3 linked regions of the Homo sapiens genome follow. The protein of the gene in region 1 binds, or shares a complex with, the protein of each later gene. Each region holds a gene or a part of one and is shown in the gene's direction. Other genes may lie near its edges. The genes, in order: WNK4, KLHL3 and KLHL2.

Region 1 (7,802 bases):
ATTTTCTGTATTCACAGGTTTCCAGGAGTGGCCAGAACAACTCCGTCTTTACCCTGTATGAACTGACTAATGGGGAAGACACAGAGGATGAGGGTAATGCCTTTCCCTTCCCACTCATAGTTAATTTTTTGTTTTGTTTTGTTTTGTTTTTCCGATATGGAGTCTTGCTCTGTCACCCAGGCTGGAGTGCAATGTTGCAATCTCGGCTCACTGCAACCTCCGCCTCCTAGGTTGAAGCGATTCTCCTGCCTCAGCTTCCTGAGTAGCTGGGATTACAGGTGTGCGCCACCACGCCTGGCTAATTTTTTGTATTTTTAGTAGAGATGGGGTTTCACCATGTTAGCCAGGTTGTTCTTAAACTCCTAACCTCGTGATCCGCCTGCCTTGGCCTCCCAAAGTGCTGGGATTAGAGGCGTGAGCCACTGTGCCCCGCCTGTTTTTTTTTTTTTTTTTTTGAGACAGAGTCACTGTATCCCAGGCTGGAGTGCAGTGGCGCAGTCTCTGCTCACTGCAACCTCCGCCTCCTATGTTCAAGCGATTCTAAGTTCTTAACCCATGTCCAAGGATTCCATAAGCCACCTGAATTCACATGCAAAAAATCCCAAATTTTGTTTTTGTGGATGCATGTGCATTTTTCTAGGGATAGATTAGATATTACAAGATTTCCAAGGGCATCTATGACCCATGAAAAGTTAAGAATTTCACTTTCAGCTGGGCACAGTGGCTCGTGCCTGTAATCCTAGCACTTTGGGAGGCTAAGGTGGGAGGATTGCTTGAGGTCAGGAGTTTGAGACCAGCCTGGGCAACACAGGGAGATCCTGTCTCTACAAAAAATTTAAAAATCAGCTGGGCATGGTGCTGTGCACCAGTAGTCTCAGTTACTCAGAAGGCTTAGGTGGGAGGATCACTTGAGCCCAGGAGGTCAAGGCTGCAGTGAGCTATGATCACGCCACTGCACTCCAGCCTGGGCAACAGAGCGAGATGCTATCTTAAAAAATAACAATAGGCCGGGTGCAGTGGCTCACGCCTGTAATCCCAGCACTTTGGGAGGCCGAGGCAGGTGGGTCACCTGAGGTCAGGAGTTCCAGACCAGCCTGGCCAACATAGTGAAACCCCGTCTCTACTAAAAATACAAAAATTAGCCGGGCATGGTGGTGCATGCTTGTAATCTGAGCTACTTGGGAGGCTGCAGCAGGAGGATCGCTTGAACCCGAAGGCAGAGGTTGCAGTAAGCCAAGATCGCACCACTGCACTCTAGTCTGGATGACAGAGCGAGACTCCGTCTCAGAAAATAAAAATAATAACAATAAAAAAAATTATAAATAACTTTCTTCATTCAGCATCTGCTATAGATGCCGAATGAGAAACAAGGGCAGGGGATTAAGCTTGAAATCTCATTCCTTGCTGACTCAGGCTCTCTTTCACCCTTTATTCTTATAGAGGGCTCAAGATCTGTGGGTGTCAGCTGAAGAGATTAGGCCAACACCCCCAGCCCATTTATATACTTTGGTTTCTGGCCAGGCAAGGATTTGTATAGTGTTTGATTTTTACATAGCGTAAACACTCTTAGTTCTTTTTCTCCGACTCCAGATTCTGATCCTCTGGATCACCACAAGTTTCGATCTTAGCTGGGATAACAGAGGGTGTCTCCCCTTTCTGCCAGGCCCTGGCTGCCCTAGCAGAGTTTATAGCTCTTGGCTGTTCCCCCTGCTGCCCTGCAGGTCTCTGCTTGCTACTCCCACCATCACCCCATGATTTCAGCACTGTAGCCTTGCCTAGCCCACCACTCAGGTTGGGCAAAGTTGTAGGTTTCCTCAGAAAGCAAGCTCCCTGACTTAGCTGAGCCCCCACAGGGGGTGAGGTAAGCAAGCCTGTCAGGGCTTGCCTGCTGCCTCCCACATCTCCCTGCAGTATCTTACCATATCTCCACATACTCAGCTAGCCATAGGCTCCCCAATTTTTTTGGTTTTTTTTTTGAGACAAAGTCTTGCTCTGTCCCCCAAGCTGGAGTGCAGTTGCACGATCTTGACACTGCAACCTCCACCTCCCGGGTTCAAGTGATTCTTCTGCCTCAGCCTCCTGAGTAGCTGGGATTACAAGTGACCACCACCATGCCCAGCTAATTTTTTGTAATTTTAGTAGAGACAGGGTTTCTCCATGTTGGCCAGGGTGGTCTAGAACTCCTGATCTCAAGTGACCCTCCCACCTCAGCCTTCCAAAGTTCTGGGATTACAGGCGTGAGCCACCGCGCCTGGCCTGTGCTCCCAGCTAAAAGCTAGAAAAAGGGCAGATAATAGTGCTGGAGTTTAACAGTCTCCTGGCCAGGGGTACTGGCTATATTCTTTGTGTTAGGATAGATCCTCTAGGGTCAGTGTCTAGTGACAATGGCTCCGATCTCCCTAGGCCTGATTTTCACGGCCCCTTTGTGGCCCTGAAGCAGATGGTGTCATTCTCGTGCATCAGACACAAATGCTAGGTGTGGGGGAGGCTGAGTCTGAGAGGAGAACCAAGAAGGGGGAAATAAGCACAAACTCATTTCATGCTGATTCAGGCTTTCTTCCACCCCTTACTCCTAAGGAGTGCCTGGGAAGTGTGGATGGCAGCTGTAGCAGTATAGATGGCTTATGCATACCCTGCCTCTGGGAGGTCTCGGCTTCCAGCCAGAGCACTCTCCTCAGAGGCCTTGGGCCTCAGGAGCTGATTGTCTCTGCCTATCTCTCCCTGTTCAGAGTTCCACGGGCTGGATGAAGCCACTCTACTGCGGGCTCTGCAGGCCCTACAGCAGGAGCACAAGGCCGAGATCATCACTGTCAGCGATGGCCGAGGCGTCAAGTTCTTCTAGCAGGGACCTGTCTCCCTTTACTTCTTACCTCCCACCTTTCCAGGGCTTTCAAAAGGAGACAGACCCAGTGTCCCCCAAAGACTGGATCTGTGACTCCACCAGACTCAAAAGGACTCCAGTCCTGAAGGCTGGGACCTGGGGATGGGTTTCTCACACCCCATATGTCTGTCCCTTGGATAGGGTGAGGCTGAAGCACCAGGGAGAAAATATGTGCTTCTTCTCGCCCTACCTCCTTTCCCATCCTAGACTGTCCTTGAGCCAGGGTCTGTAAACCTGACACTTTATATGTGTTCACACATGTAAGTACATACACACATGCGCCTGCAGCACATGCTTCTGTCTCCTCCTCCTCCCACCCCTTTAGCTGCTGTTGCCTCCCTTCTCAGGCTGGTGCTGGATCCTTCCTAGGGGATGGGGGAAGCCCTGGCTGCAGGCAGCCTTCCAGGCAATATGAAGATAGGAGGCCCACGGGCCTGGCAGTGAGAGGTGTGGCCCCACACCGATTTATGATATTAAAATCTCAACTCCCACTGCCTGCCTCTTAAATTACTACAGTACTGGAATGGGGATGGGGAGGGCTGTGAAGTGTTGCCACCTGAGTAAATCCCAGCCTGGGAGAGGGGAGAGAAAAGAAAGCTTATGGCTTTTGTAGAAGAAAAGGTCCTCCAGGGCCCTGTGGGCTCCAGTGAGCCTGTGGTTTTACATCTGCTGGGTGGGCTGTGTGGAGGAGTGCTGATGGAACACAGCTTGGGGACAGACTGCTTTCTCTCTGAATTGGAGTCACTTAAGGGCTCCCCCTTCCCTCACCATCTCCCTCATGGAAGTCCTGAACTACTCTGAAGCCCCTCCCTCCACCCATCTGGTCTGGGTGGGGTAACTGTGGCCAAGGGGAGCTGAGGGGGGTAAGCCGGATGTGGACTTTGGTTTATTGGAGACTGGCAAACAGAAGGGGAGGAAGGAGAGCCCATATAGCAAAAACAGCCACTCTGGCCAGGGTTAGGCTGCGGCCAAGGTGGCCTGGAGGGGATGGATGACCGGGCTCTCGGTTTGGGGGAGGGACTTATCCTGGGGAGTACACACCCATTCCCTATGCAGACCAGAGGGACAACAACGTCAGACCTTTCCACTGACCTCTCCGTTCGGCCTGGGGCTACTCCGGACAGTTAGGAGGGGGTGGTGCTGCCTTATCTGGGGTGTGCAGGAGGGTGGTAGCCTCCCCCTAAGTAATCCCCCACTAGGGTCCGGGTGTCGTTCTCTCCTGCCCTCCTCCGCGCACAAACAGGTTTGCTCACTCTTAGTGCGGGAGGATGCTCCGCGGTCTCCCACTCAGTTCTGGCCTCAGAGTGAGACTGCGGCCGGGGGCTCGGGAAAGAAGGGGACGCGGCTGGGCGGGGCGGTGACTAAGGTGAGGGGCTGCTCGCGGGATCCGCACCGCGGGAGCAGCTCGGAGGGGCGGCCCTGGGGGGCAAGGGCGGGCCGCGGGGCGGCGACGGGGGCGGGGCCAGGCCGAGCTGGGGGCTGGGGCCGCAGCCGCTCAGCCGGAGCGCAGCGCACCCAGCGAGTCCGTCTGTCAGGCCGCCTCCTCTCCGGCCGTCTGATTTTCTACCCTTCGGCGCCCTGCTCTTCCTCATGTTGGCATCCCCGGCCACGGAGACCACCGTCCTCATGTCCCAGACTGAGGCCGACCTGGCCCTGCGGCCCCCGCCTCCTCTTGGCACCGCGGGGCAGCCCCGCCTCGGGCCCCCTCCTCGCCGAGCGCGCCGCTTCTCCGGGAAGGCTGAGCCCCGGCCGCGCTCTTCTCGTCTCAGCCGCCGTAGCTCAGTCGACTTGGGGCTGCTGAGCTCTTGGTCCCTGCCAGCCTCACCCGCTCCGGACCCCCCCGATCCTCCGGACTCCGCTGGTCCTGGCCCCGCGAGGAGCCCACCGCCTAGCTCCAAAGAACCCCCCGAGGGCACGTGGACCGAGGGAGCCCCTGTGAAGGCTGCGGAAGACTCCGCGCGTCCCGAGCTCCCGGACTCTGCAGTGGGCCCGGGGTCCAGGGAGCCGCTAAGGGTCCCTGAAGCTGTGGCCCTAGAGCGGCGGCGGGAGCAGGAAGAAAAGGAGGACATGGAGACCCAGGCTGTGGCAACGTCCCCCGATGGCCGATACCTCAAGTTTGACATCGAGATTGGACGTGGCTCCTTCAAGACGGTGTATCGAGGGCTAGACACCGACACCACAGTGGAGGTGGCCTGGTGTGAGCTGCAGGTGCGGCTGGGAGCCCCCTCGGTGGCACCTTGGGATGGGACTCTGGAGGTCTTAGGATGACAGACAGAGGGTGGGGGAGACAGCATCAAGGGAAGCATGTATTTTTCCAGTCAAATGTCTATAGACACCTCTGCTGTCTTTGCCCTGAATGATCTGGCTGACTCTGGGCTGCAGAAGGAGAGATTGAGGCAGGTGGTGTCTGGTGACTCCCCCATGGGTATGAACATTCTCACTTTAAAGTCTCCATACTCAACCCTGAGAGGTGGAAAATAGGATGGGAAGTTAGGCAGGGGAGCCAGTTCAGGTCAGTTTCCTGCTGGTGGGTACCCGCAATCCCTTCCTCTCCCCTAAGTCCTGAGATCCTCAGTTATGACCCTGGTCCTCTTGATCCCCTCACTCCTCCCGTCCCCCACCTATTTGCAGACCAGGAGGCTGGGATGCGGGAAGCCAGGAGCTGGGCAAGGGTCATCTCCAACTCCAGAAGATTTAGGGCAGTTGTGGCAGAATAGGGCCCCCTAACCCCTTCTGGAGCAGTCAGACTTCTGGACTTCTCCACAGCTGCGAGGAGGGGGACATAGGGAGCTCCAGCTCTCGAGTGAGTCCAGTTCTGCTCCTCATCCCACTGCCTACCTGTGCTCTCCCTTCCCAGACCTAAAGGCACTAAGCCCATGGGCTTTAGGGGGACCTTCCTCCCATTGCTCCCATGCTACATATGGGTTAGGAGAACCCAGTCAACTTGGGGCCTGAAGCTTCCGATTCAGATCAGGGGACAGAGCCTAGGGGAAGGGTCCCTCTCCAGCCCTGGCACAGGGCTCGCCCCTTGCGCCTGCCAGTGCCGCGCCCCAGGCTCTGGGCCAGGCCAGGAGAGGCAGCCAAATTGGGGGGTGAGGGGAGGGAGAGGAGCCGGGGCGGGACGACTATGGGGGTGGGCAGCCTCCTGGCGCCTAGTCCTGGATCTTTTCTTTCCTTCTCAGTACCTCCCTCCATATCCCTCCCGCCTTCCGTCTGGATCTAGCAGTTCTGTTTCTGGGGCCAACCCCCTTGCCGGCCCCAATTCCCTGCCCGCAGTATCCTGCTGCCCGCCTGCTGCCTGCTCACTGCCAGCCCCCGGGTGCCCCCTCCCGCCCCATGGCCGGCCTGGGCAGCCACAAAGGCACTATTGAGCTCAGGGCTCTGGGACCGGGCTGCATAAAGGTGCTTGTGTCCAGCAGGGGGTCTAGGGGGCTGCCCCAGGCCCAGGTTGGGTGTGTCCTTGGATCAGCTTACGTGCGGGACTGTTGGAGAGTTCAGGGTCTGCAGCCCACTGGGCAAGTAATCCCATTAACCCCACCCCATCTGTGGGCTCCAACCCTCACCTCTTCCCCCAACCCCACTCCAGGTGTCCCTCTTCCTTTCTGTGGGTGTCCTGGGCCTGACATGACACCCGTCCCCCATCCCACAGACTCGGAAACTGTCTAGAGCTGAGCGGCAGCGCTTCTCAGAGGAGGTGGAGATGCTCAAGGGGCTGCAGCACCCCAACATCGTCCGCTTCTATGATTCGTGGAAGTCGGTGCTGAGGGGCCAGGTTTGCATCGTGCTGGTCACCGAACTCATGACCTCGGGCACGCTCAAGACGTGAGCTCTGCGCATGAGTGGGTGGGGAGAGGGAGGCTGGGATGTGTGCCCACTGCTTCCTGAACTCCCAGGCTCCTCAAACTCTCTAATATCCAGGTGTAAAACCAGGTTCACCATCTCCCTCTCACCCAACCTTTGTCCCTGCCTCGGTGAGTGGCAATGTCCACCCAGCACTCCAGTAAAATACTTGGGTGTCTCCCCAGACTCCTCTTTCTCCACTCTGCCCCCTCATCAGTCTGTCCCCAAGTCTTTCCTTAACCTCTCCCCACCTGGCTTTCACTGCTTCATCCATGCCACCACCTCAATGCCATCTCGCTGATCTGGAGCCCTGCAGCAGCCTCCTAAAGGGCCTTCCCAAACTCTGCCACCCTCTAAGCGATCCTATCTTCCTGCAGCCTGGAGAATCTTTCCCAGTTGAAAATCTGAACTGTCACTCCCCTCCTTAAAACCCCTTCAAAGTTTCTCATGGCCTTGGAATAAAGCCCACACAGGCTCACCTGTTCACAAAGTCCTTAGGATACAGCCTCACTTTCAGCCTAAGCTCCAGACACACCAAATTCCTGGCACCTCCTCCCACCCTGCCTTGTCACTGGCTTTTTCTGTGCCTTTGAGCACGGTGTCCTGTCTGCCTGGGAAGTCTCCATCCCTTCCCCCTTTCACCTTTGAGCTCCTACTCATCATTCAAGATGCAACACAAAAGTATTTCCTCTCCGAAGCTCTCCCTCATGCTTGGGGCAGTTAGTCATCCCTTCCTGCGCTCCCACAGCACCTTGGCCGAGGCCCTATCTATCAATTTACTTCCCAACCCGTTTGGTAACGTCATGTCTATCCACCATGCCCCCTGACTCAGTTTCTCCCTGGGGCCGGGCAGACATAGGCTAGGAGAATGCTGGCAGAAGATGCGGAGGCGGCAGCAGGGTGCGGCAGGGGGGAACTTCCCAGTGGGGGGCTCCTTCCCGGAGGACGTGTCCCCCCACCAGGACTCTGGCTATGCGCCCTCCCCCAGGTACCTGAGGCGGTTCCGGGAGATGAAGCCGCGGGTCCTTCAGCGCTGGAGCCGCCAAATCCTGCGGGGACTTCATTTCCTACACTCCCGGGT
Region 2 (8,265 bases), on another chromosome or scaffold:
CAGATAAATTTAACTGGCTCCCTGTACAGAGATAGAGTATGGAAGAGAGAACTTTCTAGATAAAACCTAGCTTAAAAAAGTTTCTCCTCCCAACATGGTTTCTTCCTAAGCCACATAAGAGCTGAATGATTCTAAACAAAGTTGGTGTAGATGGCTGAATACATTGCTTTGGGGTAGAGATCTGGGGCCACTAGGGACTTTTGATAAGCTGTAGAAGAAGGCTGGGGTGTGGGAAGGACTGGGCTAAGACAGTGGTCCCTAGGTCACAGACTGGTACTGGTCCATGGCCTGTTAAGAATTGGGATGCACAGCAGGAGGTGAGCAGCCGGCAAGCGAGCATGACCACCTGACCTCTGTCTCCTGTCAGCTCAGCAGTGGCATTAGATTCTCCTAGGAGCATGAACCCTATTGTGAACTGTGTGTGCAAGGGATCTAGGTTGTGCGCTCCTTGAGAAGCTATCTAATGCCTGATGATCTGAGGTGGAACAGTTTCATCCTGAAACCATCATCCCCCCTGACCCCCCACCCCCATCCTTGGAAAAGTTGCCTTCCATGAAACTGGTCCCTGGTGCCAAAAAGGTTGGGGCCTGCTGGACTAAGACACTATTATTGCTGAGCAATCTGAGGATGGGACCTTTTTCTCCAGACAGATACCACATTGATTATTTTGACTCTCCTCTACTGCAGGACTCCAATAGCAACTGTCCTTAATCTGAAGTCCAGTCAGGAAAATTAGCATAGAGCAAACAGGTTCAGACTGTGGTCCAGAGAACATTTGGATAATAAGGTAGAAAATGTAAAATGTGTTTCTGAAACTGGAAAATATTGGGGGTAGGAACTTTGTGCCAGGAGTCTGGAGACTTTGCTTCTTGACTCAGCTCTGCCCCTGGTTTTGCTAGATAACCTTTCTTCCTTTTTTTTTTTTTTCCTAAATTTCATCTTTAATTTTAGATCGAGGGGTACATGTACAGGTTTGTTACATGGGTATCTTGCATGATGCTGAGGTTTGGGGTATGAATGATCCTGTCACCTAGGTAATGAGCATGGTACCCAATAGGTAGCTTTTCAACTACCTTTTTAGGCTTGCTCCTTGTATTAGGTGGTTATTGTGTTGTTATAAAGAAATACCTGAGGCTTGGTAATTTATAAAGAAAAGAGGTTTAATTGCCTCATGGCTCTGCAGGCTGTACAGGAAGCGTGCTGGCATCTGCTTCCGGGGAGGCCTCAGGAAGCTTACAATTGTGGTGGAAGGCAAAGGGGGAGCTGGTATATCACGTGATGAGAGCAGAGGCAAGAGAGTGAGGAGGAAGGTGCCACACACTTTTAAACAACCAGATCTCGAGTGAACTCAGAGTGAAAACTCTTTATTATGGGGACAGTGTGAAACTATTATGAGTGATCTGCCCCTATGACCCAAGCACCTCCCACTAGGCCCTATCTCCAACTCTAACACTGAGGATTACATTCCAGCATGAGATTTGGAGGCTACCAACATCCAAATCATATAACCCCTTTTCCCTCCCTCCATCCTCTAGTAGTCCCCAGTATCTATTGTTCCCATCTTCATGTCCATATGTACCCAATGTTTAGCTCCCACTTATAACTGAGAATGTGTGACATTTGGTTTTCTATTTCTGCACTAATTCACATAGGATAATGGCCTCTCGCTGCTTTCATGTTGCCACAGAGGACATGATTTTATTCTTTTTTTATGACTGTGTAGTATTCCTTGGTATATATATACCACACATTCTTTATTCAGTCCACCATTGATGGGCACCTAACTTGATTTTTTGTCTTTGCTATTTTGAATAGTGCTGCGATGAACATACAAGTGCATGTGCCTTTTTGGCAGAATGGTTTATTTTCTTTTGAGCATATACCTAGTAATGGGATTGCTGGGTCGAATGGTGGTTCTATTTTTAGTTCTTTGAGAAATCTCCAGACTGCCTTCCATAGTAGCTGAACTAATTTACATTCACCAGCAGTGTATAAGCATTCCCTTTCCTCCACAGCCTTGACAACATCTGTTATTTTTAGACTTTTTAATAATGGTCATTTTGACTGGTGTGAGATGGTATCTCATTGTGGTTTTGATTTGCATTTCTCTGGTGAGTAGTGACGATGAGCATTTTTTCATGTTTGTTGGCTGTTTGTATGTCTTCTTTTGAGAAACGTCTGTTCATGTCCATTGCCCACTTTTAAAAATGGGTTTACATGTTTTTTGCTTGTTGAATTAAATTCCTTATAGATTCTGCATATTAGACCTTTGTCAGATGCAGTTTATGAATATTTTCTCCTATTCCGTACATTGTCTGTTTACTCTGTTGATAGTTTCTTTTGCTATACGAAGCTCTTTAGTTTAATTAGGTCTTACTTGTCAATTTTTGCTTTTGCTGCATTGCTAGAAGGGTATTTCCTAGGTTTTTTTCCTTTTTTAAATAGTTTTAGGTCTTACATTTAATTGTTTACTCCATCTTGGGTTTATTTTATTTTATTTTTTGAGACAGAGTCTTGCTCTGTCACCCAGGCTGGAGTGCAGTGGTGCAGTCTTGGCTCACTATAACCTCTGCCTCCCAGGTTCAAGTGATCCTCCTGCCTCGGGCTCCCAAGTAGCTGAGACTACAGGCACATGCCACCACACCTGGCTAATTGTAGTATTTTTAGTAAAGATGGGGTTTTACCAGGTTGGCCAGGCTGGTCTCAAACTCTTGACCTCAGGTGATCTGCCCGCCTTGGCCTCCCAAAGTGTTGGGATTACAGGTATGAGCCACTGTGCCTGAGTTAATTTTTATATATGGTGATAGGGTCCAGTTTCTTCTGCATATGGATAGCCAGTTATCCCAGCATCATTTATTGAAGTCCTTTCCCCATTGCTTATTTTTGTTGACTTTGTCGAAAATCAGTTGGTTGTAGGTGAACAGCTTTATTTCTGGGTTCTCTTTTCTGTTCCATTGGTCTATGTGTCTGTTTTTGTACCAATACCATACTGTTTTGGTTACTGTAGCCTTGTAGTATAGTTTGAAGTCAGTTAATGTGGTGCCTCCAGTTTTGTTCTTTTTGCTTAAGATGACCTTTCTTTTCTAAATGGCCTCTTCTGAGTGTTCTCTATTCTGTCTACCTCCTGTGAATCATGAGTGGTGAATAAAGTATGAAGGTGTAGTCGTATGGTTTTGCAGGGAAATTTAGCAGGGTTTTATACTGGCTCTTAATAGTTATATTTTGAAACTTGAATACATACAACCCTTACATATTTCCTTTTCTGATCTTTTTTCTTTGTCTGGTTTGTTAGATGTGGCATTTCCACACCTTCCTGTATGGCGAATATGTAAACGTGGGTATGTGCAAAGGAGGAGTCATCTCTTTCTTATGTCCCTTTTATGAATCACCCAGTTGTGTTCCTGGTGGATGTCTGAACTCTGGCACGGATTCCGAGATTCAGTTTCCTTATTTGTGATGTTCAGCTTTTTGTGGTCCCTGTGATTGGCCTCAAGAGGAAATATCTGGAGCAGGGCCACAAGGCTGATTAGAGGAGGAAGGGACATAGAGGGAACAAGATATGAGGGGTATTGTTGTGCAAGGAAGAAGTGAAGATACAGCCCTGTGGGGTGTAAATGAAATTATCCAGGCCTCTTCTCACTTGAGAAAGAGTGAGTGTGAGTAATGGCCTTGTCTAAGAGAACACTGAGGTGCCAGGGGAGGTAATCTTTGAGAATAACCCTGTAGCCAGTTTGAGTTCAGGAGGCTATATAAAGTTTTAGTTACTTTTACTTTCTGTCACCTCAGTGTTCCTCTCTTCCTTCTGTGGTTTTAGGGCTTTGTAGTAGTGAAGAAATTTAACAGGTTAAAATGATAAGGATGATAGATTTACTGAGCGTCTCTTCGTACTTTCACCTACATCATGTTATCCTCCTTGAAGCCCCCTACAACACATTGGAGCCTAGTATTTCTTCTTAAACAATCACACGGATTACTCTGAGAAGAAAAACGGACCATTTAAAACATTTTTAGAATCCTGTGATCTTGGAGCTGAAAGGGACTCTAAAGATTGTCTGGTCTGACCCTATATTGTGAATGAGTAGCTGAGCATGAGGTCCAGAGTGTGGAGAACACTACTCAGGAAAGTCACTCACCCAGTGAGTGCTGGTGTGGATTCGGAAAAGCCCAGGGGTGCCATGAGGTGTCCCAGAAGAGAGATGCTCATAGCTGATTTTTTTCTGAGGCATTAGGATAGCTTCTGCACCACTTTTTGCAGCTAATTGTCCCAGTTACCTCTAAGCCTCTGTGGCTAGGATATACAGACTGGCCTCATGCCTTCCACAAGATTATGTTTTAGTTTGGGAAAGAAGATTTATAAATAATGAATTAGCCAAGACTGTATATTAGGTGTGAGATGACGATACAGGAAAGTATAGTTTGTGTATTTTGGTGGTGATTGACTGTCATTGGTGTGATTAGGGAAGGTTTTATGAAGACATGGGATTTGACTGGACTCCCAGAAAGACTAAAGGACTGGGATTGGAGAAGGCATTTCAGGCAGGGAGAGTTAAATTAGTCTAAATTGAAGCTCAGCAGCTGGAGATTACAGGATGTGAAAGATCTTTGGCTGGATATGGGGGTTCAGTGGGAGACTTACTAGTTGGAGCCACTGCTTAAGTTAAATTCCAATATGACAGATTTTAGGAAGATATTTTAGGATTGTGCTAAGATATTTTAGTATTCATTGTGATAGCTTTACTGCAGTAGTCTTTGGCCTCTTGCAGTAAAATAGGGTTTGTTTCAGTTTCACCTATTTGTACTACCTCTCTTTTTCGACTAGTTTTCCAATTTCTCTCTGTATTCTCTTAATTTCTCTCTGTGTTTTTCTCACTTCTGTCAGGTGCTTTTCCCTTAACTTCTCCCCATCTATCAGACACTCAGAGCTACTACAGAATTTGGGAGGAGGATTTGGAACATAAACTGTGACCTACAAGTGAATTTCCCCAGGTGGATGATAAACTCCACTGCAGGCCACAGAGGGGCCTCCTCATTCCAGCAATCTGGCCAGGCTGACAGACTCATAGCCTATGGGAGCAGGGGAGGGTGTAGGGGCCAGTATTTCTCGGGCTAGTGACGAACTGCCTGATTCTTTGCAGCCTAGACAGAGGAGGCAGGAGCCCCAGGGGCGGGCTAATCGCCTGGGCTGGGGATGCCTGGGCAGATGCAGAGGAAGCTGGAAAGGTGGCAGTGCACCTGGGTCGCTGGAGCTGCCGCCGTTCCTAGGAGACCAAGGAGCAGCAAGCCTGCGGGGGAGGGGGAGCAAGTGGGTTGCTGCTTTTAGCAGCTGAAAGGGCTGCAGGGAGCTCTGGGTAAGACATTTTCTGTTGCTGCTGCTTTTGCGGTAGAAGCTGCTGCGAGTAAGTCAGAGGAAGGAGGATTGAGAAGGGAGGAGGCTTCACTTGCAGCCATGCTGAATCACTGTTGCTGATCAGATTTCCCACTGGTCTGCTGGGAGAATCAAGAACAGAACTAGGATCCCCGAGTGCATACACAGTTCAGCAGCTACCACCCTGGCTGGGCCTCACACAATGGAGGGTGAAAGGTATGTATGTATAAGTGTGTGCTGTGTTGTGTGTGTATGTAAGTGTATGTGTGCTTGCGGTGCAGCCACCAGCTTTTGTGTTTGCATTGGCTAGGCAGAGTTGGAAGACCTGGCCACTGATGGATCTTAAAGGGCGCCAGAACAAGAGCAGGAAAGCCGCTTTCCAAATCACCCGTTCCAGGGCTTGAATCTCCAGAGATCTGGCTTCCGCAAAGGCAGGTCTGGGTTTGCTAGGCAGCGGAGCACCCTGAAAGAAGGGACTTCCTGGCTGGTGTTCGGGAATAGTTTCAGCACAGGCTGAATCAGATTGCCTTTCTCAGGCTGTTTCAAGGAGGCGTTTCCCTTTCCTGGCTCCTTTCCCGGGGTGTTTTTTCTTTGGTGGGGGGTTTTTGATGTCATAGTGGGGCTGACCTGACATAGTGTACTTGCATTTTCACGCAGGAGTGCTTGAATCTTCAGCAAGCATGCCATGCTGATGGCTGTGTGTGTGCGCGCGTGCACGCCGTGTATGCCTGTATACACACACATTCAGGGATGAAGGAGAGAAACCCAGTCAGATGATACTTGCTCTGAACTGAGTTTCATATTTGTATTGAAAAGTTTATGAGTGATACTGGAAGGTCTGTGCTTCCTCCATCAGGGATTTCTTTTGAAATAGGAACCAGCAGAAAAGATTTTAAGTACTTTTGTTGAGCTGGATCTAACTAGCGAGGCAGTTAGATCCTGGCAGGCACACACATCTAAATTTTTAAATTGTTATCTGAAGATCTGAATCTTTCATTGTGAAGGTGCTCAGCGCAGTGCAGAGGTGACATTCCTCTGTCTATGAAGTAAAATATCTCTTGAGTGCCAACCTCTTCATTCTTTGGTCTGCAGTTGGTAGAGTACGAGGCTTGCCATTTTATCTGAGGAGAGAAGACTGCAGGGAGGGGTCCGGCCATGGCAGTGCACCACTGAGGGGAAGCCTGCTGCTCCAGATTGCCAGTTTGATGCAGACAGTAACCATCTGGTTAACAATAATAGGCTCAACTAAGTCAACACTAGAGAGTATCTCAATGAACACTTTCCTTTTCATGAGTTGTTGTGACTTCTGTGTCTCACGGGGCACAGTGATGCCATTAAACATCTCTAGACCCTATTAGAACTAGCATGATGATTGGGTGTCATTCTTTTGTCTGTAGAGGCCCTGGGAACTGTGTTTCTTGATGACTCCCACAGGAAGAGCCTGGGACTGACTGTGCTGCTGGTGCATTCTCTTTCTGGGTGCTCTTTGCAACAGGAGTTTAGTGTTGAACTCTGTGAGGCCTGCTGAGCAGCAGAATATGAAGGCCTATTTCCTAAGTGTGGGGCAGAGGTGAGCAGTGTCTTTGGTCCCCAAAACAGTGTCCCATTGATCTGGTAGGTGGCAGAGAATGGGGTTGATGCGATGAAGGTTTAGAGATTCTGGGCCATGCCTATTTGCTTGACCTGTGGTGTAACTGGGGTTGAGAGGTCAGTGTGAGACTACCAGCAGCGGATCAAACAGTTTTGGGCACTGTGTTCCCAGTTCTGTGTTCAGAAATATAGTGAGTCCTTGCCCCTGTCCTGGGGCCTCTCAGCTGGGATGGCTGATGTCTATGGCTTTAGAACACCAGGTTGCACATGTTCTTGTACTTTTCCTCTGCTGAAGGCAGATGGTAGACAAGAAATCCAAACCGAGCAGCTTCCAATGTTCACCAGGTCACCCAGGTCATACCTTTTGTTCCTGCTCCAAGTCCAGCTTACCATGCCACGCGTTCAAGTCTTCTGAACTCTAACTCCTGTTCCCATTTCCACTGCTCACTCATATACCTACTGAGAATTCTGTTGATCTCTTTCATGATCACCCATCCTATACATTACTCCATCTAGCCTCATATCCTTAGCTCCCAGAGTTTCTTTTGCTGGATGTCTTTCCCTTCCAATTTTGCAAAAGTTATCTATCTATCAAGGTTATTCTAAAATTCTACTTTATCTTGGAAACTCAGCTTTTCTAGTCCTGGCTGATGTTCTTCGGAATTCTAATACCTCTGGTTTGTATCTCATAGTTGGACACTGAATAATAGGCCCACCAGATCTTTCAGTGCTTTTATTTCATATATCTTAGCAGTCCCCAGACTTGGAGACAGGTCCTCAAGGGCAAGGCTGGTGCCTTGTACTTCTAAATACCCCCATTGACTACTGCATGGGTACACAAATAGCAGGTGCTGAATAGTTATTAGCTGATTAGCTAATAACTTTTGTGTGAGGCTCTGATAACTAAAAAGAAAGTTGGTGAAAGAAGAGACTGAAGCCTTTGGCCAATAGCCTCATCTTTGGATATCAGCCTTATTATCTTAGCACGGGTAACTGACTTCAAGGAATGCTTTGAGGTAGGGGGAGAACAGAGGGAAGTAGCCTTGTTTTACAAGTTCCCTGGGAAATTGAGGTCCAGAGAAGCTGAGTGACTCGCCTAGGATCACATGTCCAACCTCCAGAGACTGGAGGGATCCTCAATCTGGTGCTCATTCCACACTTAACCTGCTGAATCTTAATCGGGGCTGTTTTTAAGCATTACAAAATTTCAACCAAGGGATTGCTAATGAACAATTTTTTTTTTCTTTGCCATGAGGGTATGAAAATACTTTCTACCTTGAAAGGCTATTAATTAAAAGCATGGACTTTGG
Region 3 (7,420 bases), on another chromosome or scaffold:
AGATGTTGTACTTAGTGAAGAATTTCTCAATCTTGGCATCGAACAAGTGTGCAGCTTAATCTCAAGTGACAAACTTACCATTTCTTCAGAAGAGAAGGTAAGGATATTTTTCTTTTCCCAGTGTGCAATGATGTTTCCCTTTTTTTTTTTTTAATTTCACTTTTTTTTATAGCTTTGTGATCCTGTATGTGTAGTGACAGCCAGTGATGTTTCAACTGGAAGTTAAGAAACTCAGCTAGTTACTTCAGGAAAGGATTCCAGGAGAAAAAAAAGAAACTCAGGACTTGTTGATTGTCTATGTAAATTACTCCCGGTCTTCACTTTGTGGGAGGTTCCCTAAATTTTTAGCCACTACAGTTTTGTACTTGACCTCCACAGCAAGAGCTTGCACACATTAGACTATCTGAAACAAATGCTTTTTTGGAAACTAGTTTCTTCCTACAACTCAATGCCTGTAGGAATTATGATGTGAACATAATATTTGTCACTAAATTAGTTTCCTTGTCTTCTGAGTTGAAAGAGGTTACCTAGGATGGCGAAGTTTTGGTAGTTCTAGACTGAACATTCTTGATTGTCACCTTCCTTTAGATTGATTTCCTGTGACATAATACCTCACCCCTGCCAGTCCGTTCAGCCTGCCTGCCTCCCTGACTCTCTCCCTCCCTGCCTCCCTCCCTCTCTGTGCAGCTACTGCTTCTGGTTGTAGTCTTTTGTCTCTCCACGTTTTGAATTACCTTTGTCAGCCACCTGCACTTTTCGTATAGTTGGAGAGAGAAGCTCCTTTTAGTGGGCTGTTTTTCCTTGGGTGGGTTTTGTAGCACACGGGAATCAGAGCACAAAAGCTGTGCTTAGAGGAAATGAAACTTGAGTTTCTCCTTTGTGTGCTTAGCATTTCAAGTTGTGTAAATTCTGATTCTCTTTCTCAAGGCTATTCATTTCACCTGGGGTTAAAGACACATTTACTCTAATATTTACAGTATTAAAAAATGTGAAAGCATTTGTGACATATATAATCTTAGCATCCTAGAAATACAGAGGAAGATGACATTACTTTCACACTTAATAGACATGTATTGAGTGCCTTCCATGTACCAGACACTGCCATGGGCTCCTAGAGAAGAGAAGATTAGCAGAATAGAATTTGTTACTCATAGACTAGTGGGACAGCCAGTAGAGTAAATAATTGATTACAGAATGCTGTAAAGGGTGCCTTAGGAGCATTTAACTTTTCCAGGAATGGGATAGGTATGGGGATGGTAGTTCAACTTGGTTCAGATGTATATTTCAAGTCTTTTAAAAATGAGTCTGAGTTTGCCAGAGAAATAGGGATGGGTGGGAATGCAGAGGGCATTCCAGGTAGAAGAAGCAGAATATACAAATGTAAAGAGATATGAAAGAGTAATTGTATTCAATGTGTTCAGTATGATGGGAGTTTAGAATATGAGACATTGGTGGAAGATAAAATTAGAAGATGATATAATAAAATATCTTCTCAGCTATGTTAAAGAAAATTAACTGTATTGTAGTGATGAGCCTTAAAAGGGTTTTAAGCCAGAGGAGAAAACCATGCCAAAACCTGCATTATAGAAATATCATGAGGGCTGTTCTGGTTTTCTGCTGCTACTCAAGTCATTGCCAAATGTAAAAGCATAAACAATAACCATTTTATGCTAACAATTCTATGGTCAGAATTCATGCAGAACAATAGGGACAGCTTGTCTCTGCTCCACAGTGTCTGAGACCTCGGCTAAGGTGACCCAGATGCCTGGAGATACCTGGCATGGTTCTACTGGAGCCATAGATCTGGAGCTTCAGTTCTTCTGCACATGGCATCTTATGGGTCTGTAATGTCCAAGGTGGCTCCTCCACCTACTTTTGTCTGGCTCCGGGGCTCCCGGTTGATTGGTCTCTCTCTAGGTCTCCCTCCTCTCCCCTCCTTTCTTCTCTGTAACTTGCATGGGTTTCTCATGGTGTGGTGGTTTCAAGTAGCCAGACTTCTTACATGACATTTGGCTTCCTTCAAATGAGCATTTCAAGAGAGCAGAGTAGAAGTAGTGAGGCTGCTTAAGACCTACCTTCAGAAATTGCACAGTGTCCCTTCCTCCGCACTCTACTGGTTAACAGGGCCAGCTTAGATTCAGTGTGGAGGGTTACTATATAAGGGTATGGATCTGGGAGATGTGGTTTATTAGGAGGCTATCTTTGGAGACTAGCTATCTGGTGGTGGTGGGCAGTATGGACCAAAAATGAGGTGAGGGCCAGATGAGAGGATGTTGAAGTCATACCAGTGAGCAGCAGGTTCCGATATGGGATGATAGAAGCAGGGGGGAGAGAAGACAGAACTGAGAAATATTAGATAGAATTGCCAGAAGGCCGACTATCTTGTTCACCTAATCTCTGGCACCTGGCACGTAGAGACACTTGATAAATACTTGTTGACAGAATGAATTAAAGAGGGGTGTTAATTTTAATGTGCATTATTTTTAGTTTCTTGCTTTTTTTTTTCAAACTTTGCAAAATGTTTTACTACCTCCATTCTGTTCATTCTTGTTATTTATTTGCAGAAATCAATAAAAGGTTGCCAAAATGTAAGCTGATCCACAAAGTATGAGAGAATTAGTTTCTTGCTTTATTCCTGGATCAAAATAACCTATTTTTGGTCTCAGTTATCCAATTGCATATTGTCAAACATTTCCTGCAAACCTTTAAAGATTATTAAGTGATATATTCATCAGTTGAGAAGAAAATTATGTAGACAAACAGTGTCTTCATATTAGCTTATTAGCTTTCTCACAATTATGTATTGTAAAAAATAATGCCCTTATTTTTTAATTTGTAAAAAAAAATTTCAAAATACTACATTTTAATATATTCTGCTATTACAGAGCTGAGTCGATCTATTGTACAAACCTTCGATTTATGTGTATGGTCTAACATTTGTTTGTAAACCTGAAGAAAAAGCCAAACATGAATTGTTTATAAGGATACATGATTTTCATTCCAGAATATCACTTTGCTTTATTATTTTGGGTAAATAAAAAAAAAAAGAACAGAAAAGAAATGGGGTGAATGGCTTTGTAAGTACATTGCAAGTCAGGATTTTGAAAACACTTGAGCTGTGAATTAAACTTGGATGTCTTAGCAAGAGTTATATATAAAATGTAGTCTCATATTTTATCCAGATGCCTTGATACACAACTCATTTCTTATTTTTTCTTCTCCTATATTTTCTGCAAGGTATTTGAAGCAGTAATAGCATGGGTGAACCATGACAAGGATGTGAGGCAAGAGTTTATGGCCCGACTGATGGAACATGTACGGTTACCTTTGCTTCCTCGGGAATATTTAGTTCAGGTAAATGCATATGCAAAACATATGAATCCACACAGCACTGTGTCACTGGCCTGACAGCATGTAGATCCCTATCAAGCAGTGATAAGAGCTGTAGAATGCAGATCTGTGGAGTACAGGACAGAAGACAGTAAAGGACCCCGCAGGCTGGAGTGCAGTGGCGTCATCTCGGCTCTCCGCAACCTCCACCTCCCGGGCTCAAGTGATTCTTGTACCTCTGCCTACTGAGTAGCTGGGACTACAGGTGCATGCTACAACCCCAGCTAATTTTTGTATTTTCAGTAGAGTTGGGGTTTTGCCCTGTTGGCCAGGCTGGTCTCGAACTCCTGACCTCAAGTGATCTACCCGCCTCGGCCTCCCAAACTACTGGGATTACAGGCCTTGTGAGGCACCACACCCAGCCACCATTCCCCGTTCTTAGAAATTTGCTTTTGCCCCTATTTTTGATTTGGGTAAGCAAGTACTAGAGCTTATCAAGGTAGTATTTGTGGTCACTTAAATACATGTAAATAAATGTCCCTGTGGCAGTCACTGCTTTGCATCTTCTTTACTGTTTTTTTCTTTCCATAGTCTCTTCTGATTCCCCTGCAGACCTGGAATTTTGAGGTCTGACCCAAATACCGTTTAATTTTACTTCGTAATTTAATAGTGGCATGCATTTGATTTCTGTCTTTATTTCTAAGCTGAGGGAAAACATTATTTGAAATAAATGTGAAAAATGATTCTTTAGTGGTCTCCAAATAATTTTAAATTTACTGTTTTTTTTATTAGAATCCCGCTAGGAACATTTCAGCATTATTTTAATAATTGAAACCATTGAAAGAATCATTTATTAAGAAATTAGATTTGAACATTTTAGGATTTCTTGAAATCTCATTACTTTTTGTGATCTGTGTAATCATGGGTCTTCTGGTATTAAGAAGATGATCCAAAAGGGTGGGTGCGGTCAGTGGCTCACGTCTATAATCCCAGCACTTAGGGAGGCGGAGGCAGGCATGAGGCCAGGAGTTCGAGACCAGCCTGGCTAACGTGGTGAATCCCCGTCTCTACTAAAAATACAAAAAATTAGCCAGACATGGTGGCAGGTGCCTGTAGTCCCAGCTACTCAAGAAGGTGAGGGAGGAGAATTGCTGGAACCCGGCAGGTGGAGTTTGCCAGGATTGTACCACTGAACTCCAGCCCGGGCAACAGAGTGAGACTCTGTTCCCTTCCCCCCGCCCCCCCTCCCCCCCCAGAAAAAAGAAAACGAACCCAGAAGCCTGTCCTGCGTTTGAGGTCAGGCTAGGCAGTACAAGATTTATTTGTGTTATGGGTACGTTGCTTTAAGGTATTTCTAATCTCTTTTTGGGATATTTTACTTGCCCACTTGTGTTTGAAAAAGGTATCATTAACTTATTAGTATTGTCTTCACCTGAAGGATGTATTATCTAAACTTTGTTTCTTGTTTTGCTTACTTTTTGTCTTAAAGGTTAAAGATACACAGGTGGATATAATATCCGAAGAGTTCATCATATTCCATAGCTAACATTGAAGTTTATCATTTTTCACTGTGGTTCTTCTTTTTATTACCTATATATGTTTTTCTCTGCAGGCCAGATACTTGAGCATTTTTTGGTTATATTTATTTTTCTCTTAGATGTATTTATAAACTTTCCTCGTTTATTTTTAGACTAAACTAAAGGATATAGTTACTGCTTTTTTCCTCTCCTTTACTTCTTTTTCTTTGGCAATTTAATTATGAAATAGCCCTACCCTCAGTGGGTGTGTCTGATTTCTTGTTACAGAGGGTTGAAGAGGAAGCATTGGTCAAGAATAGCAGTGCTTGCAAAGATTACCTCATTGAAGCAATGAAGTACCATTTGCTGCCAACAGAGCAGCGTATATTAATGAAGAGTGTCCGGACCCGGCTGAGGACACCCATGAACCTTCCCAAAGTAGGATCTGTTTCTCATGCTTGTTATTACCTCATGCAAAAGGCTTATAAGTGAAGCTGTTAGTATTTTGCTCATTTGAATTTCCGTGATTTATTGTTTTAGTTTTCCTTCAAGAGAAAATGTGCCTAAGAATGCATTGTAGTGTATGTAATTCAACCTCTATTGATTTTATATGTTAAGGGTGGGGATTCTTTGGTCCGTTTAATTTTTATAAACTGCATGATGTCACTCTTCTGGAACAGAAGACAACTGGTTTTTGTCCCCTCTGAGTTTTATTAGCTCTAATTATAGTAGAAAGCTCTAATTATAGTCCAAAAAAATCAGACCAGGTAGAAGGATTTCTCTGTAGGCCTGGGGTGCTGTGATTCATGCCTGTAATCCCAGCACTTTGTGAGACTGAGGCCAGTGGATCACCTGAGGTCAGGAGTTTGAGACCAGCCTGGCCATCTACGTGAAACCGTGTCTCTACTAAAAATACAAAAATTAGCCACGTGTGGTGGCAGGTGCCTGTAATCTCTGCTACTCAGGAGGCTGAGGCAGAGAATCACCTGAACCCAGGAGGCGGAGGTTGCAGTGAGCTGAGTGGAGTGCCCACTGCACTCCAGTCTGGGCAACAATGTGACAGGCTCTGTCTCAAAAAAAGAAAAAAAAAAAAAAAGAATTATTTTGTAAGCTAGGTGTTTGTTTAATAACTGAAAACCCAGTAGTTTCACAGAATTACACATTAGAACTACAGATGATAAAAATAGCTTGTTCAGTTCATCTCATTGCTGTTCCCTGCTGTATACCATTTGATGGTTCCCTGCACATCATATGTAGCCATTTCAGCATACATTCCCATGTCTTCCCGTGTGTCTCGTGTTCATATTTTCCTATGTGAATGTTTATATTCTACCTTGGTCTTTTTAGCTGTGGCCATTCATATTTTACCAATTCAATTTTTCTTATGAAATAACCCCTCATTTCTGTCTCTGTTGGCAATTCCTTCTGCTCTGTTTACATCTTTATAGTACGACCAATACTTTAAGCACCATTTTGTGCGTGGTCTAATCAGAATGACTCATAATATAAAGACTTTATTTATGTATTTATTTTTAACTCTTGTATATGTTTCGGGCAATGCTGGATTAAGAAATAAGAATCTGTTCTCTCGTTTTCTTATATCATCTTCAGTTATTACTCTGTCCTTTCCATTGAATTGTTTTTTAAATTCTTTCACTTTAATACTTTAATATTTTTCTAAGTTTTACTTTGGAGTCTACATTTTTAATTGCTGCAAATCTATATTGGTATTGTTTTTCTGTTTTGCCTATTACTAACAACAGTTCTCAATTTATAACTAACTGCAGATTTGCCAGGATGCTGTTGACTTATTTTTCTAGATCGTTAGCAAATATTTTAATTTAGAATTGATCTCAAAACTCTCTTGGTGGCACCTTGTTAGAAGTAGCCAGCCACTGACACAGTCTATTTGTGGAAAGTTTCATTCTATATGATTATTATCTAAGCCAAAATAAGTAGTTTGGCATATAACATCTGATGAGGTTGAGGATCAAATGGATTCAAATTTGGCATGACTTTTTAAACATTCTTCTGCATGGTATTTTATTGGCCCCTAGAAGTTCAAATGCTTTTCTCAAAATCTTCTAAATTTTTACTCAGAATTATCATCACTTAACAAAGTGTATTTACAAGGTATTCACTTCCTATCCTGGTTTGAAAATTTGGTATTTGCTTTCTTTAAATTTTCTGATCTATCCTCAGTTCTCTGAGATTTTTCAGAAATAATTGTAAGTGGCTCAGTAAGTACATTAGCTAGTTCCCTTAATACCTCAGTATTCATGCCAGGTCTGCTGATTTTATATGTGTTTACATTTTTCAAATACCCTTACACCTGCTTTTATAAGTACCCATCTTTTAAGTCTTCATTAATTCATATTTGTCCATCTTATTTGGTGTCAGTTTTTGTTCTTACAAAATAATCCATTTATAAAAATTGTTCAGTCTTGGCAGTGAGTTTAAGGTTGCCATTTATTTTATTTTATTATTTTATGTAAGTCTTTCCAACTTCCTTCTAAATAATGTGCTATATCTTTAATACTTTTTAAATACTTCATATTTGTAAAAAAGAATTT

What was found.
Region 2: the proteins of WNK4 (region 1) and KLHL3 are in contact, whole or in part, in a crystal structure (PDB 4CH9), measured with the Homo sapiens proteins. Residues at the interface, in NP_115763.2 of Homo sapiens: Glu557, Pro558, Glu559, Glu560, Pro561, Glu562, Ala563, Asp564, Gln565; in NP_059111.2 of Homo sapiens: Arg339, Phe355, Gly357, Ser358, Leu359, Arg360, Thr386, Phe402, Gly404, Gly407, Ser432, Tyr449, Gly451, Ser481, His498, Arg528, Tyr577.
Region 3: the proteins of WNK4 (region 1) and KLHL2 are in contact, whole or in part, in a crystal structure (PDB 4CHB), measured with the Homo sapiens proteins. Residues at the interface, in NP_115763.2 of Homo sapiens: Glu557, Pro558, Glu559, Glu560, Pro561, Glu562, Ala563, Asp564, Gln565; in NP_009177.3 of Homo sapiens: Arg345, Phe361, Gly363, Ser364, Leu365, Arg366, Thr392, Phe408, Gly410, Ser411, Thr412, Gly413, Ser438, Ser439, Tyr455, Ser487, His504, Arg534, Tyr583.

Annotation. Positions count from the first base shown.
Region 1 is NC_000017.11:42,776,228-42,784,029, forward strand, and holds the start of WNK4 (serine/threonine-protein kinase WNK4), read left to right. Parts: upstream 1-4,382; 5' UTR 4,383-4,471; coding exon 4,472-5,089; intron 5,090-6,530; coding exon 6,531-6,703; intron 6,704-7,709; coding exon 7,710-7,802. Other genes in the region: VPS25 (vacuolar protein-sorting-associated protein 25), read left to right, coding at 18-93, 2,730-2,842. UniProt on the Homo sapiens protein: Serine/threonine-protein kinase component of the WNK4-SPAK/OSR1 kinase cascade, which acts as a key regulator of ion transport in the distal nephron and blood pressure.
Region 2 is NC_000005.10:137,732,949-137,741,213, reverse strand, and holds the start of KLHL3 (kelch-like protein 3), read left to right. Parts: upstream 1-5,124; 5' UTR 5,125-5,567; coding exon 5,568-5,581; intron 5,582-8,265. UniProt on the Homo sapiens protein: Substrate-specific adapter of a BCR (BTB-CUL3-RBX1) E3 ubiquitin ligase complex that acts as a regulator of ion transport in the distal nephron.
Region 3 is NC_000004.12:165,294,372-165,301,791, forward strand, and holds part of KLHL2 (kelch-like protein 2), read left to right. Parts: coding exon 1-97; intron 98-3,237; coding exon 3,238-3,354; intron 3,355-5,135; coding exon 5,136-5,285; intron 5,286-7,420. UniProt on the Homo sapiens protein: Substrate-specific adapter of a BCR (BTB-CUL3-RBX1) E3 ubiquitin ligase complex that mediates the ubiquitination of target proteins, such as NPTXR, WNK1, WNK3 and WNK4, leading most often to their proteasomal degradation.